2 separate regions of the Homo sapiens genome follow, and region 2 is linked to region 1. Evidence: fine-mapped expression QTL. Tissue or cell type: iPS cells. Region 1 holds a variant in brackets; the other region holds the start of a gene. All regions are shown on one strand. Distances are between the middles of the regions.

The links. PIP is the estimated chance that this variant, and not a neighbour inherited with it, causes the effect.
Region 2: PCDHA10 starts here. The variant in region 1 is the best candidate, but not a certain one, in a credible set for the expression of PCDHA10 in iPS cells (HipSci, PIP 0.87).

What each region holds. Positions count from the first base shown.
Region 1 is chr5:140,939,891-140,942,582 of GRCh38, reverse strand. The region is part of intron 1 of PCDHA1 (protocadherin alpha 1); the gene reads right to left. The region is part of intron 1 of PCDHA2 (protocadherin alpha 2); the gene reads right to left. All of the region lies in intron 1 of PCDHA3 (protocadherin alpha 3), which reads right to left. The region is part of intron 1 of PCDHA4 (protocadherin alpha 4); the gene reads right to left. It also overlaps PCDHA5, PCDHA6, PCDHA7, PCDHA8, PCDHA9 and PCDHA10, and 5 more genes. Among named protein-coding and RNA genes, the nearest start is that of PCDHAC1, 15 kb to the right of the region's middle. The variant AG/G (reference allele first, on the strand shown) is at 1,375.
Region 2 is chr5:140,854,549-140,857,240 of GRCh38, reverse strand. It overlaps PCDHA10 (protocadherin alpha 10), which reads right to left and starts at 1,344. Exons shown (of 4, transcript NM_018901.4): 1 at 1-1,344. The coding sequence starts at 1,192. The region is part of intron 1 of PCDHA1 (protocadherin alpha 1); the gene reads right to left. The region is part of intron 1 of PCDHA2 (protocadherin alpha 2); the gene reads right to left. All of the region lies in intron 1 of PCDHA3 (protocadherin alpha 3), which reads right to left. It also overlaps PCDHA4, PCDHA5, PCDHA6, PCDHA7, PCDHA8 and PCDHA9, and 1 more gene.

The sequences.
Region 1 (2,692 bases):
ATCCTATATGGGAAGATTTTTCTGCCTCAACCCCCTACCCCCCACCATACTGAGTTAGTTGCTTCCCCTCTGAGTTTCCTAGATACCATGTATTTATTTCAGTTGTAGCTTGAATTTGATTGTATTATAATTGATAGTTTACTTGTTTATTGTTAGATATCTTTTTTTTTTTTAAACAGAGTCTCATCTGTCGCCCAGGCTGGAATGCAGTGGTGCAATCTCCGTTAACTGCAACCTCCGCCTCCCTCTGGTTCAAGTGATTCTTGTGCCTCGACCTCCCAAGTAGCTAGGATTACAGGCATGAGCCACCATTACCAGCTTTAGATATCTTTTAATGATATGGATATCTTATTTGCCTACACATTTTAAATATCTTATGCTCAAAAATGTATTTTAAATAAAATGTCTGGAATAGAGAAATATGGAAGCTGTTTTATGTCAAGTAAAGCCACAAATATCACCTTTAATAAAGTTTGATTATATGAATGTTTTAGATGAATGCATGTGCTCTCTTGGCTCAATTAGCAAACATTTCATAATAGACCAGGTTTATGAATTATTTTTTCCCAAAATTAATAATAAGAGATATGAATCCCTTATCAAGGTTTAGGGAAAGTAAAGATACTATTGTTTTCAAAACAAAAGTAATTCAAATATTTTAAGATATACATAAAAGCATTTCAATGTTACTTAGATGCTAGTCACTGGTGATAGAACTCTATGATAGGGAATATCAGGTAATGGCAGCCTAAATTATTTACAGCAGTCATCCTACTGAAATCAACTAAATATTCTTGGGTAAAACATTAAAACAATTATCTTAAAAGCACTGAAAATCTGATAAGATAATGGGGAACTGCTAGGACAAATTGTGGAGGAAAGCTAAGCCCAAAGAGGTAAACAGAATATTGAACTTGACATAAAATTGGACATAAGTTGTAGGAAGACAGAAATTAAGAAGCAGGATGGGCTGGGCACCATGGCTCATGGCTGTAATCCCAGCACTTTGGGAGGCTGAGGCGAATGGATCACGAGGTCAGGAGTTCAAGACCAGCCTGGTCAAGATGGTGAAACCTCGTCTCTACTAAAAATACAAAAAATTAGCCAGGCGTGGTGGTGGGCGCCTGTAATCCCAGCTACTCCCGAGGCTGAGGCAGAGAATTGCTTGAACCCGGGAGGCGGAGGTTGCAGTGAGCCAAAATCCTGTCACTACACTCCAGCCTAGGCAACAGAGCAAGACTCCATCTGAAAAAAAAAAAAAAAGAGAAAGAAGAAAAAGAAAGAAAGAAAGAAAGAGAAAGGAAGGAAGGAAAGAAAGAAAGAAAGAGAAAGAAAGAAAGAAAGAAAGAAAGAAAGAAAGAAAGAAAGGAAGAA[AG/G]AAAGGAAGAAAGAAAAAAAAAGAAGCAGGATGTTCAAGATGGGGAGTCTTATGGGGCCTCCAAACTACATTAAGCTGGAACTTCAAAGGACTAATCTTTCCAGTAATAGTATGTGAAAACTAAACCCACCTACTCTCCAGCCCAGAAAACTGCTGGGGAATTTGACTTGGCACCAAAAAGGCCAGAAGGAAAATAGGAAAGGAAAATTTAATCCTATAAACTTGTAACTAGATACCAGATATCCTGCATATTTTTATCTGAGAATACGTAGTCTAAGTAGCCAAGGAGCTTCAAGTCTTGAACTTGATTTAAAGTGGTTTACTAGCAGTAGTATTCACTCACTGGAAGGTGTATAAAAATCTATCGTGAAGAAAGGTATTTCCATCCAAGATCTCAGGATATCCTGGCAAATATCATTTTCAGGATATGGACCATCAAAAGTCAAATAAAAGTTGGCACACATAAAAATATGGAGCTGTCCAGCTGAAACAGCACACAGCAGGTATACACTTGCAGACTTCAGACTCTGGAATTATCAGATGAAGATTTAATATATTTAAATAAATAAATGACAAGCTTAAGAATATTTGCAGGAGCCAGGAGCAGCGGCTCATGCCTGAAATCCCAACACTTTGGGAGCCAAGGTAGGAGAATCACTTGAGCCCAGGAATTCAAGATTGCAGTGAGCTATGATCACGCCTGAGCGACGGAGCAAGACTTGTCTTGAAAAAAAAAATTGCAGGGAACAGAAACCTATAAAAAATATCATGGCAGACTTGATCAGTAATAATTATAATTTTTAAAATGAAAAACACAATAACCAAAATTAACAACTCAAGGAATACTTTTAATAGCATGTTGGACACACAAGAAGACAAAATTAGTAAAATTGGAAGAAAGATAATAAATTACTGATGAAGCAGCACAATGAGACAACAGTGGAACCCAGAAGATATTGAGGAGGTAACTTTAATGTACCAAAATGAAATAAATGCCAATCTTGAATTTTACACCCATGTAAAAATATCTATCAAGAATGACATTTCAGGCAAACAAAAACTATAATAGTTTATCACTAGCAGAAATAGAGGTAAATAATACATAACGCTAAAAGTTTCAATTTAGCAGAAAGATATCACATATTTATATTTGGTTAAGAATCTAATAAAATAAAATAGCCTTAAAACATATGACACAAAAAATTGACAAAATCCAAGGAGAAACAATTCACTATTCATCGTGGAACACTTTAACATAATTTTCTCAGTAACTGATAAAATAAGCAAACAAAAAGAATAAAAAAGAATGCAGAATAT
Region 2 (2,692 bases), 85 kb after region 1:
ACACCAGCTTGAACGGAACGTGAGGCGTCAGAGAGCAGGTGACCTGTCCGTTGGCTCCTGAATCATGGTCAGAAACGCTGATTAGGGCAATGACGGTGCCCACTTGAGCATCTTCTTTCACTGGGAGAGACAGAGAAGTGACAATCACCTCAGGTGAATTATCATTTTCATCCAGTAGTTCCACTAGGACCGTGCAGTGACCAACCATAGGTGGGTTTCCCTTATCTGTAACATCTACATGAATTTCATAAGTGTTACTGTCCTCAAAGTCAATAGCATCATTTACTTTTATTTCTCCCGTCCTTTCGTTTATCCAAAATTTCCTTCTTATCGTGGGTGGGACCAAAGAGCTAAATGAATACATCATTTCCTTGTTTATTCCTTCATCCGAATCAGAAGCGTTGAGCCGTATTACTAATGTTTGGTTCACTTGATTTTCATACATCTTAACTTCATAAACCGGTCTGTCAAAGATAGGGGCGTTATCATTGGCATCTAACACCAGGATCAGCAGAGAAACAGATCCGGTAAATTCAGGTTTGCCTCCATCAGTTGCTGTCAACAACAACTTTAGCTGAGGATTTTCTTCACGATCCAGCAGCTTCCGCAGAACAAGCACTGGGAATTTGTCTTTGTCTTTTTTGTTTATAATATCAAGAACAAAATACTCATTTGGACTGAGTTTGTAAGTAAGCAATGCGTTCTCTCCAACATCCGCATCAGATGCGCCTTCTAGTGGAAATCGAGAGTCAAGCAGTCTGGATTCAGGTATTGAGAGCTTTTGTTCTGTTACGGAGAACCTGGGCGGGTTGTCGTTAATGTCCTTCACTTCCACGTCCACATGGAAAACCTGCAGCGGCCTGTCCACGATCACCTCCAGGTGGATGCTGCACTCCACGCTCCGCCCGCACAGCTCCTCGCGGTCAATCCGAGAATTCACAAACAAAATGCCATTCTGCAGATTTACCTCCAGAAGGTCCCCGTGTCTTTTGGACGCCACCCGGAACAGGCGCTGCACCAGCTCCGCCAGCTCCAGCCCCAGGTCCTGCGCGATGCGGCCCACGAAGGTGCCGTGTCTGGCCTCCTCGTAGACTGAGTAGTGGAGCTGGCCGCTCCCCACCTCCCAGGCTGCGAGGAGAAGAAGCGAGAGCAGCAGACACTGGACCCCCAGGCAGCTACATCTGGAAACCATCTTATCCTTCTCTTGTTTTACAAATCGACGAATCAGCGGTCTAGAACGCACATACGATCTGACATTTTCTGTCCTATTTCTTATATCTATTTTTTATCGAAATGGCTGAGATCTCAGAATGACGCTACTTCCTAGTCCTTGAGAAACTGGCTGATGCCTTTGTTCTAAAAAGCTATTTTGTGGACGACAGCGACATCCGGTGGCTTTAGGTGTAAGTACGATTCCATGAGTTCACAACTTTTCTTTCATTCATATGTTAATTCTTTTTTTACGTATTTTTATGTCTATGGACTTTCAAAGCCTCACATTACGTCTCTTTATAGTTAATAACAATAAATGTTGATCCCACGTGCAATGTTTTCTTAAATGTAGACTCTCAGAGTAGTGATTTCTTCCCTAACCACATGATTATCAATAGCCGAATTTCAAAATGCCCTTAATATTTGCATACTACTGAGTATACTAATATTTTATTAAATGACAACTTTAGTTCCATTTAAGTTCTGACACTTAACTTACTTCTCTTTCTCATTATTTTGAGATTTAATAAGGTTTATTTAGACACTAATGTCAAGCATCAACTATCTGTGAGGTGTTTATAACTCCGAAGATCTAGTCATCACTAGAATTTAGAGATCATTAGCTTCAACATCAGACATTTCTCCATTTAGATTCCTATTATCCTACTCACTAGCCACATGACTTGGGAAAATCGTTTAACCTCTCCCTCCCTCATGTTCCAATTTTATAACTTTGGCCTAATAGTAATACGGTGGTTGAGTGAATTATAATATAGTAAGTGCTTGCAATAGTACCTTAAGGAGAATGAGTGCTTCATAAATGGAAACTATTCTCAGGCCTCAATTTGGCCACATTTGTTTTCATGAGGCTCAATACCAAATTTGGCTCATCAGGCAAAATTATTACCTATAGAATGCCTTAATTATTGCTACTGCACAGGCTGAGAGTGGTGGTTTCTGTATTTAAGAAAACAGAAAAGTACTATTACAGAAAAATCCTTTATACAAGAAGTTTCATTTTATAATATCTTACACGGGCAAAAAGAATCTTAATTATAATTCTGAATAAAGTAATTAAGAAATTTATTATTTCTGCTTTCAGAGGCAAATGCTTTCAACCCTGTTATATTTACGCTTTTCAAATGCCCAAAAGACACAGTTCTGAAATATATCTAGTAATTTTATCAATGTCAGTGAAGTTTTTCATCACCACTTGCAGTAAAAATATTTTTTTCTCTCTCAAAGTTCTTGAAATCAAATATTCAGGAATGAAAATGTAATATATCTGTGCTGCTGAAAAAAACTTGAGTTTTCTGTCTTTCCAAGAAAGGAAAACTTAACAACAGACATATTGGTCTTATGCAAGGGTTAATTTATTTTATTTAATGATGTTTTGACTTTTCTAAAGAATATTTTTAAATGTGTCAATTACTTTAAACTTTTTTTATTAAAATCTGAATGACAGAGCAACAATATTTAT